Linked DNA regions of Homo sapiens. The protein of the gene in region 3 purifies or fractionates together with the protein of the main gene of each other region. This does not show direct contact. Each region holds a gene or a part of one and is shown on either strand. Other genes may lie near its edges.

Region 1 (3,655 bases), on a different chromosome or scaffold from region 3:
CTGCTGGTAGAGCTGTAAGATAGAGGGGATTATCTGCTGAACACTGAGATCGGCACTCTTCATTACTACACCATGTTGCTTGTTCTTTGTGATGTGGATGCGGACCCTCTGGAAAGGCTTCAGAGAGAAACTTGCCCTTGAGCTGTAGCTTCAGTGTGCCAGTCATTGTGAGACAGGAGGGATCACGAGGAATGGAAGTGGCCTTTGCACTAAAGGAGCTCATAGCCTTATCTGTTACTTTAAATGTTTTTCTTTTTTGGTGGGGGAGCTTGTTTTGCTTATTGACTTATACCTGAAGACTTCAGAAACTTTTGCAGTTGAGTGGATTTATATGATTCAGCCTAAGATAATTTGCTGGCAATCTGTTATTCTGATGTATAGGCCTTACTGTTACGGACGCAGTTGTAGATGTCAAATTATTATATGACAAGGACTTCTGTCACGTTACTTGTTTTTTTTTTTTTTTTTGAGACAGTCTTGCTCTATCACCCAGGGTGGAGTGCAGTGGCATGATCTTGGCTGACTGCAACCTCTGCCTCCTGGGTTCAAGAGATTCTCTTGCCTCAGCCTCCCAAGTAGCTGGGACTATAGGCAGGTGCCACCACGCCTGGCCAATTTTTGTGTTTTTAGTAGAAACGGGGTTTTGCTGTGTTGGCCAGGCTGGTCTCAAACTCCTGACCTCAAGTGATCTGCCTGCCTCGGGCTCTCAAAGTGCTGGGATTACAGGCGTGAGCCACCATTCGTGGCCACATTACGTTTTTTCCCTATGGGAGGTGCCCTGACTTGTTTCTGTGAGTTCGAAGTTTTTGTGAAGTTTTTTGACTCAGAAGTCAGCATATTTCAGCTTGTGTTAAATTTAAGAGGCTTAGTGGTTAAATATGTTACTTAAGAGTCACAGAGCTAATGTGTGATAGAGCCACAAAAAACTGGCCAAAAAAGAGTAAACAAATCTTCATTAAATTATTATTATTGTTCTGTTTGAGCATCTTCCTCAGTGGTCTCCAAGTCCGATGCCTGTTATGTACTAGGATGAGTAGGCTGGGCCTTGATGAACTGGAGAGCACGGGCCCAAACTAAAGGGAGCAGTTGCTGCTCAGCTCCACTTGCTTGTTGCCATGTGAGGAAGTGGGCCCAGTGTCCTTGGATCTTTTGACACTTTTTGGAAAAGATGCTGGAAATCTGGATTTTAATTTATTCTTATTTATTTATTTAACTTTTAGAGACAGGGTATCGTCCTATCAGGCTAGAGTGCAGTTTCGTGGTAATAGCTCACTACAGCCTTGAATTCTGGGCTCAAGTGATCCTCCCACCTCTGCCTCCCCAATAGCTAGGACTACAGGCGCATGCCACTATGTGTAGCTAGTTTTTTTTTTTTTTCTTTTTTTGAGACAAAGTCTCGCTCTTGTTGCCCAGGCTGGAGTGCAGTGGCATGACCTTGGCTCACTGCAATGTCCGCCTCCCGGGTTCAAGCGATTCTCTTGCCTCAGCCTCCTGAGTAGCTGGGACTACAGGTGCCCATCACCACGCCCAGCTAATTTTTGTATTTTTAGTAGAGACAGGGTTTTGCCGTGTTGGCCAGGCTGGTCTTGAACTCTTGACCTCAAGTGATCCGCCTGCTTCAGGCTCTCAAAGTGCTGGGATTACAGGGGTGAGCCATTGCATCCGGCCATGTACTAGCTAGTTGTTGCTTTTATTTTTTTTGTGGGAAGGAGTTTCGCTCTTGTTGCCCAGGCTGGAGTGCAATGGCGCGATCTTGACTCACTGCAACCTCCACCTCCTGGGTTCAAGCAATTCTCCTGCCTCAGCCTCCTGAGTAGCTGGGATTACAGGTATGCGCCACCACGCCTGGCTAATTTTGTATTTTTAGTAGAGGCGGGGTTTCTGCATGTTGGTCAGGCTGGTCTCGAACTCCCGACCTCAGGTGATCCACCTGCCTTGGCCTCCCAAAGTGCTGGGACTACAGGCGTGAGCCACTGCGCCCGGCCTAATTTTTAAAAAAATTTTGTAGAGATGGTGTCTATCTATGTTGCCTAGGCTGGTCTTGAACTCCTGCCTTCAAATGATACTCCTGCCATGGCCTCCCAAATTGTTGGGATTACAGGTGTGAGCCACTGCATGTCGTGGATTTTAATGTATTTAGTTTAAAAATTTGCCATTAAAAATTATGTTGATCAAAACATATTTGTGGGCTGAGTGTAATTCTAGGCTGCCTGATTGTGAACTCCAACCTACCTGGCTGCTGAAATTTTGGTACCTGTTGTTCAGAGCAGGAAGTATACAATACAATGTTTTGATTATTGATTAGAAATCTCATGGTAAATTGCCAGTGTGAGGGGGCATTGTAGCTTGCGCTGATAGTTTTGGAGAGTGGCAAGGTCAATGCTTTTATTGTATAATCAAGCTAAAGTATAGATCTGGCTGGTGAGATGACCTTATAACACTTCTATTTTGTGCTCTTAGCACTTTAAATGCTACCAGATTTCTTGTCTCTTGGCCCTCTCCACAATAGTATGAAGTGGTATGGTAAATTTGTTAAATGCTCTTGTATACCTTATTTTCTTTAGTCTTCATAGTCCTATGAGATAGGTAGTATTACAAAGGGGGTAATCATCACCTCTTGAGATGAAGAAATCGGCACCCAGTGAATCACAGTTTAGTGGAAAGAGCAGTTGACTAGAGAGGGTGTTGCATCCTGAATATGCGGATACCACTAACAGCCAGTGAATCACAGTTTAGTAGCAAGTGCAGTTGACTAGAGAGTGATTTGCATCCTGAATATGCGGATACCGCTAACAGCCTTTGGAGTTTGGTCACGTCACTTACAAATCCTCGGATCTTTTTTCCTTTTTGGATAAATAATGAGGAGTAAAATTCAAGTCTTGCTGAAATTCAATTCGTAATATCCTATACTTGAGTATACTTTTACTAATATACTTTTATTACTGATGCAAAGTATACTGAATGTGTAAAACTTCAAAAAAATAACATTTTCCAGTTCCCTGCGGACTCATTTTAAGGTACTGTGTTACAAATAAGTACCATTTCAGCAGAGAAATTGGTAGAAAATTGAAGGAATGGTTTTCTTTTCGGGATGCCAAGCTTTCTGTTTCTAATTGATATGCTTAAAGTCACACAACTGATTACTGGCAGACTCCAGTGGAGATGACTCAAATCTAAAATGCTGCCCCTCCTCTCTTGCTGGCAGGTCAGGAACCACTACTCAGCTCTTCATCTGTTCTTTATTCATTACTTCCTCTGGGAAAGGCCCTTGATGGGCCAGGTGCTCCCCCAGTGCATGCAGTGCCTATTGACTATATGTACTCAAGATTGAAAGGGGGCGTAGAGACACCCAGCACAGTGAGAGAAATATGGTCAGGGAGTTCCCAGCCCAAGAGTTTAATTTATTTTTATTTTAATACCCAGCTTTCACAAGGTGAAAATTGAAGAAATACTGGTCTTGTAGATACTTGTTTTCATTCATACTCTATTGTATAAGGAAATAACAGAATATAAAAATAAAGGGAATAAATCCTGAGCAGTCATTCAAAATTTATTAACTCTAGTTGGCAGCAGTCTAGATATATTGGGGAAATGGATTTAATATAGGCAACACAAAATTTGGACTGAAAGTAGAATACAGTTTTATGTAATTGAA
Region 2 (3,655 bases), on a different chromosome or scaffold from region 3:
TTTTATCAAGTGCATTTTTGGAAGGAATGATTGGAAGTTACATGCTTATGCCCTAGATAGGCATAGATAGGCCCTAGATAGGCAATATTTTTAATTTCATTAGAAATGAAATTTCATTAGAAATTAAAAATATTCATCAAGTTTAAACTAAAAGAAGCAGTAGGCTAATACACACTGAACTGGGGGTGGGGGTACACATGATTCTCTCTTAGCCACATTTTCAACCAGCTTTATGTTCTTGAAGTGTAATGACTCACTCTCAACTTGAGTGGCTCTAATTCTGTGGGATTACTAGCATGCAACCATCACTAACCCTATGAAAGCGATTGGTATAAAGTCCCATGCAAAGCATACAAACCCAATAAAAAACAGGCCATTCTTCCTTGGCAAGACACTCATCTGGGTGATGAGTCATCTAAGATGGAGGGTGACAGCAGGAAAAAATGTTAGGGTTTGCCTTCTACCCTCAAGATGGGCCTGAAGAGTATCACCCTGTAGTCGGGCACTTCATCATTTCTCAAAGGAGTCCGCATAGAACAGTGAATAGTATGAGTGACATCAACTTTCATATGCCATGCTTGCCCTGGTTTATAAGGAAACTATACACACACATTTATAAATAAGGAAATATAAGCTCTTTAGCTCTTACATATTAGCTAATATATACATTAGCGCTTATAAAAGATGACAGGACAACCCACCATAGGGATTGTTTGCAAATGCTGGGGATAAATTAGAGAAGGAACAAAATGAGGAAGTACCTTGGAAGAAGCTCATGTTTGACTGTTTTCAGATGCAACAGAGAATTTTCTGCTTCTTCAAATTTAAAAATTTCCACTGTATTCTTGAATTCTGGGTGGTTTACAACAAAGAGATAAACTGTGTCATCTAAAGAATTGAAAGAACAGAGTTAATTTACAAGACATAACTACGGGACCTCTGGGCAGGCACTGACATTTAAATACCACAGGCAAGGAAAGGTTGAATGTATAAGCTGTTAGACGACCTAACAGATCATTCTCTGTCTTTCCTATTGCTGTCCGTCTGGTGTTATTTCTGATCATTGGCTCCCTGACCTTTAAGAAAGTGTTTCCTACTCCATATACAGAATTCATGCATAATCTGTTTCTACTTTAATTCAAAAATACAGTTCTTTTTTAAATGTGATGATCGTAGGTATATGAAAAGATTATGAAATCTAAACATTCTTTCAGGTGTTACCTGTTAGGAATTTCAAAATGTAGCATAACTTACTGCCAGCTGAAGAGGCAAATGAACAAGTTCTTTGTAATGAAGAATACAGAAATCACTCATGAGTTAATTGTTCTTCTCTTCCTAGAAATATGATCCAAATCTATTTTTCACAGTCATTTGTGAACCATCACACGTTACTAAATGTTGGTAGCCCATTGGCTCTTACCGTTGTCTATGAAAGTGCTGATGCCATGTGGATTGAATGAGGCCAAATCAAACCCACGACTGATTCTTAATTCCCGTGCCCTTGGTTTTTCTTCTTTTAGATCCATCATTAGTATTCCTCCAGGCTTATCTGGTGCAAAGCTGTGGAGTCCTGGGAATTTTAGACCCTTTCCAAAACGGTGAAAAATGTTAAATACAAAAGCTTAAGTATTTTTATGGACTAACATGGGAACTGTACATGAAGGATAAATAGAGATTGTGGTTAAAGTAGTGGCATAAAGCCACAAAAACTCAAAAAACAGAGAAAAGATAACAGAAAAAATAATAACGGGGAGGTGGAATACTGAAAGCCTGAAAATAACTGAAAAGAAGATCAGGGATTTATTCTCTTCAGAGAGTAATCAGAAGGTTGGTGGACTAGGTGATTCCAGGGAGAGCTGAGGGTGGAGAAAAGTGACATCTACATACTGACTGTGGAAATTTGTTCACTGCTAGATCCCAGTGCCTGGAACAGTGCCTGGCATACAGTCCATCCTTCTCCCACTGATTCAAAATATCACCTTTATCATGTGCTAGATCTCTGACATTTACATATTGGTCTATTTAGGGACTCTCTGTTTTGTTATTTTAATGTCTCATGTCTATTCCTGTGCCAATATAACACTTTTTAAATTACTACAGCTTTAGGTCAGGCCTGGTGGCTCATGCCTATAATTCCAGCACTTTGGGAGGCTGACGTGGGAGGACTGCTTGAGGCCAGCAGTTTGAGACCAGCCTGGGCAACATAGCAAGACTCTGTCTCTACAAAAAAAAAAAAAAAAAAAAAAAAAAAAATTAGCTGAGTGTTATGGTGAGCACTTGTAGTCCTAGCTGCTCGGAAGGCTGAGGTGGAAGGACCTCTTGAGCGCAGGAGTTTAGGAGTTCAGGCTGCAGTGAGCTATGATTGCACTACTGCACATCAGCCTGGGCAATTGAGCCAGTCCCTGCTTCTCTAATGACAGTTTTGTCTTTTTCTTTTCTATCTCACATTTCTTTTTCTCGTTTTACTGAATTACTAAGAACTCTAGTAGATTACTGATGGTTGTGGTGTTGGGTATTTTCTTCCTGTTCTGAGCATTAATGCAAATGCAGCCAATGCTTCACCATCAAGAATGATGTTTGCTGTAGTTTTGTGGGAATTTTCCTTATCTTTCTAGTTTGCTTGGAACTTTAGGAATGAGTATTGAATTTTATTAAATGCTTTTTGGTACTCACTGAGATGATATAGGTCTTTTCTCTTTTAAATCAGTTAATAAATTACCTATCAGTCTATCTAAAATGGTGATTCATCATTACATTCTTAAGGTAAAGCCTTCTTGGTGATGTTAAATTTTATGTGAATGCACTACCTAATTCAGTTTACTAATACGATGCAGTCATATTTACACAAATTTAGGCACACAATAAAAAAGTCTTACTTTATGTATAAAATTGGACATAAGAGGAAATCTCTCCAATTAAAAAAGATTATCTACAATTGTATATTTTCATGGAGGGCAAGCCTGGTAAGTAGAACAAACTGGAATTATGCTATTGTTACATGGCAGTGCCACTTCAGTTAATCCCTATTCTTTATGAATGTCCCCAAAACAAAAGCATGATTTACATGCAAAGGAAGCACTATCAGATGGTGATAACTAGTCATGGTTATGTTCGCACTCCTTATTTATTTAAGTATTTTTTCTCTTTTTAAAAATTTATTTTTAATTATGATAAAATACATACAACATTCATCACTTTCACCATTTTTAAGTGTACAGTTCAGTGGTGTTAAGCACACTCACATTGTTTACATTTTTTATATTTTATTCTATGTCATCCAATTCTTCATGAAGTGTGACATTAGTTTTGAGGTGACCCTCAACCCATAACTGTAAAATAGGTTGGGTTAGATGAGCTAAAATGCTAGGAAGAAGAATGAACAACCTCCACAATGTAGGACCTCTTTATTTAGAAGAGAGTACACTCTAGGTTTTATTAGAGACAATGCCAAGTAAATGAAAAACAGCAGCAAACTGGGAATGTTTCTAAATTTTAAAAAAAGTCAAATGAGCAAAGGAGGGTAACAGAAAAAAAGCAGAAAAAGTTCTATTGATATGGCTATAAGATCTTTGTAACTATAACATGCCCCCAAGCTAAAATGGCTGTAGATTTATGTGTTTGGAGACCTCATCCCTCCTACTTCAGATTTATTACT
Region 3 (3,655 bases):
TGTTAGCTCTTTTCTGAACTTATTGATACATTTAATCCTCACAGCAAAGAAATTAAAGTACAGTGTCAACATTTAGACAATGTGTCCAAGATCAGACTACTACAATGCTAGTAGTAAACAGAAACTATAATTCAAAAGCAGGCAATCTGATTCTTGACCTCTACTCTTAACCACTATGCTTGGCTGCCTGGTTTTTGAGGACTTAGTAAAATGAAAGAAAAAAAAAAGTTACAATAGACTCAAGTTAGAGAGAACTGACCAACGAAAGCAGCAAGAAGGCTATGGTTTTAAAAACAGATTTTAAAATTAATAATACAGTAGCCATTAAAGGAAATTCAATGAAAATAAAGCGTGGGCTAAACGAGTTTACAAACACTATTTATAGACCTTTAATGCTTAAGAAAAACAAAATGACTAGTATATTAGCCATTTTAATGTTTTAGGAAGATGAAAGAAAGCTAAAATTTCAGCCTAATTAACACAATGAAGGGATTAAGAGATTTACTTTCACCTTTGTGGAAAAATAAAAAAATTAAAGTCAAAAAGAGTACATGTACACGCTATGGCAGAGGGCAGTCCATGATGATTATTTTTGTTTTATTTTTACCTAATGGAGTGATGTCCTGAAGTATAGTCCAGTTTCCCAAATTTCTGTGTTCGGTAGCCATGCCTCTCCATGACATCCATCCATGTTGTATAATTTGGATCTAGACCCTTAAAATTATTCCAAGATTCTGTTAAGTGAGTGAAGAGGCCACTCCACATTGCTGAGAAAAAAAAAAAAAGGAATTGGGATTAAGGTAAAGCTTAACAATTTAACTATTAGGACAATTACTCTGAGAGAGCAGTCCACTAGTGAAGAGCTTATGCTCTGCAGTAAGACGTACCCAGATTAGGTGCCTTACCAAACATTTCTGATTGTTACCTCATTTTATCAGAGTGATACTCTGTGGGGAGTTACTATTTCCATTTTACAGATGAGTTGACTAACGCTTAGTGCTTAAGTTACTTAAGGTAAATACAGCTGGAATTAAATACAAAGCATGTGTGACTAGAGGCCTCTTTCAATCATAAAAACAATCCCTAAGTATTTATTGGTTAATTTTCTAAATCAGACAATTGAAGTACAGATCTCATTTCCCCAACATCCTTAAGGATCTTCCCTTATTCCCTGTCCTTTTGCTGGCTTTCCACAAAAAACGTAGTGTGTTATGCCTTATCTCTCACTTTCTACAACTATGATTGTTTATTCAATAAACACTTTTTTTCCTTTTCCCATTTCTGTGTACATAAATAGAAAGTTAGAATAAGCTTTCTGTTTTCATCTAGCAAGATGTTTTCTGAGAGGTGGGATGGGGGATTACCTGGGTTTGAATCCCAATAACACCAGTTACTGAGTGGTCTTTGACAAATTATTTGACCTTGCTTACTCTTCAAAATATACTTCTTCCAGGAAAAACAACATCTAACATTTTGAGACATCTAGGGTTCATTGGCCACTTTCTCATTCGTTATTTAATGTGATGCTCAGAACAACCCTGTGAGGTACACAGTATACACAGCAATTTGCAGATAAGAAGACTGAGTGACTTGCTTGAGGATTAGCATCCAGGTCATTGTCTCACCCTAGCCCACTGCTCATTCTACTTTACAGTTAACAAAACTGTTTTTTAATATGCCTGGTCCTTCATTATTGAAATATCATTTACAATATAGTTTAGTTTCTTTTCATCACTGGTAATAATATAGTTGTTAGTGTTGAAAATATAGGTGAAAGAAGTTATAACTCAAATCACAGAGAAAATCATCTCATTTACAGACAAACCAAATCACTGAGTGCCATTTATGTGTTCCAAGGCAACAAACATAAACCAGAAGACAGGGGAAAAGGAAAACAACCATCAGACAATAGATAGAATTTATAAAAATGGCAGTTTTTTCCTATTTGTTAATTATTCATGGCTTAATGTCACTGACATTCTGCCAATAAAACTATGCCTATTTGTTAAATTATTATAATAAAAGTGAACAATTTGACTTGGGATAAAAGTGAATTGAGACGGAAAGAAAGAGGTAAAGTATGTAATCTGAAATAATAAGAAAAAATTCAGGTAAATCTGAATATAAGTTGTAACTACTTTATGGTATACTCTAATGTTCATAGAAGTCCTCCCAATTACCTATACCGTTACTGAAAAATTTCCCTGGAAACAGAACTCTTCTAGGAAATATGAGTATTCCCTCATTTTCTTGGATGGCCAAAAGATTCTTAGTCCCCAGTCACAAGGAAATAAAACGGTAACACATGAACTAGACACCTTTCTAAATGATAAAAATTCCTACTCTTGAAAAATACAATTTGAACAACCCCAATAGCCAATATATACCTTAAAATGCACATCTTTTATATTAAAACAATTTTATTGAGGCCAAATACAACTATTCTACTTTTAGGTATAATCTTTTAAACTGTGAATATATTTTCAGTGTGTAGCCACTTTCTCCCATTCATATTAAGGATGTTCATACCTGCGCGTGATGGGCAACAAATTGGAGAGTTTGTGTAGGCATTCAGAAAGGAAGTCCCACGTGTCTTCATAAAGTTGATAAAAGGAAGTTTCACTACCTGACTTCCTGGATGAAATGTTAACCTTCCATCCTGGAAATAAAGAAATTTAATTAGCATTGATTACATTACCAAAGAAGAAAATTATTTTCTTTAACCATAAAATTTACAATAGCAGAAGACTTCAATATGATTTTAAGAATCCTCCAAAGATAAAAACAAAACAAGTATAGAGGGTGTTTCCAGTATCTGGTACATAAATAGCTAGAATTCAGTGCAGCGTTACACTTGGATTCATTTAACTACAGTAAATAAAGGACTTCCTGGAATGTTCTTTTGGGGGATGATGAACTGACTAAGTATTTATTGAATACTTAACTATGTGCCAGACACTGCAAAATCTGAGGATGCAATGGTGAATAAAACAGAGTCTTAGGCCCCATGAAGCTTACAGTCTAGTGGGAGAGGCAAAAAGTATACTGGCAAATAAACTATGAATAATTACAAATTATGACGTGTGCTTTGAAAAAAATCCGAGATACAGAAGGACAAGAGAGACCTACGTTAGACAGTGTGGACAGGGAAGCCTTCTCTGGGATGTATGAGACCTAAAGAATGAACAGGATCCAGCTATTCAAAGAATTTAAAGGACATACAAAGTTTGAGATATCTGTGAGATGGAAGTGGTGATATCAATTAGGCAGCTGGGGTGGGGTGTGGTGGCTCATGCCTATAATCCCAGCACTTTGGGAGGCTGAGGTGGGAGGATAGCTTGAGCTCAGGAGGTCAAGACCAGCCTGGGCAACACAGGGAGACCCTGTTTCTACAAAAAAAAATTAGGCAGCTTGATAAGTGAGTCTGAAGATTAGGAGATGTTTGGGTTGGAGATATGCATTTTGGAGATGAACTGGGAATTGAAGAACTCACGTTGGTAAAGAGCAAGAACAGAAAAAAGAATGTTCCAGTCCTGGAGTTCTATCTATTATATGTTTTCAACATAATTATAAATAAATTCCAGTTTAGAACATGAGCCAACCCAAAATATAGAATATATCTAAATCCTTGAGATAGCTGAGATTCCCAAATAGA

What was found.
Region 1: the proteins of ARSK (region 3) and MAPKAP1 fractionate together in Homo sapiens (co-fractionation; one large-scale study listed by BioGRID). This does not show direct contact.
Region 2: the proteins of ARSK (region 3) and PON2 purify together in Homo sapiens (affinity purification with mass spectrometry; 3 studies listed by BioGRID and IntAct, with this or other methods). This does not show direct contact.

What each region holds. Positions count from the first base shown.
Region 1 is NC_000009.12:125,700,583-125,704,237, reverse strand, and holds part of MAPKAP1 (target of rapamycin complex 2 subunit MAPKAP1), read left to right. Parts: intron 1-3,655. UniProt on the Homo sapiens protein: Component of the mechanistic target of rapamycin complex 2 (mTORC2), which transduces signals from growth factors to pathways involved in proliferation, cytoskeletal organization, lipogenesis and anabolic output.
Region 2 is NC_000007.14:95,410,892-95,414,546, forward strand, and holds part of PON2 (serum paraoxonase/arylesterase 2), read right to left. Parts: intron 1,587-3,655; coding exon 1,421-1,586; intron 889-1,420; coding exon 762-888; intron 1-761. UniProt on the Homo sapiens protein: Capable of hydrolyzing lactones and a number of aromatic carboxylic acid esters. Has antioxidant activity. Is not associated with high density lipoprotein.
Region 3 is NC_000005.10:95,565,002-95,568,656, reverse strand, and holds part of ARSK (arylsulfatase K precursor), read right to left. Parts: intron 2,660-3,655; coding exon 2,530-2,659; intron 768-2,529; coding exon 608-767; intron 1-607. UniProt on the Homo sapiens protein: Catalyzes the hydrolysis of pseudosubstrates such as p-nitrocatechol sulfate and p-nitrophenyl sulfate. Catalyzes the hydrolysis of the 2-sulfate groups of the 2-O-sulfo-D-glucuronate residues of chondroitin sulfate, heparin and heparitin sulfate.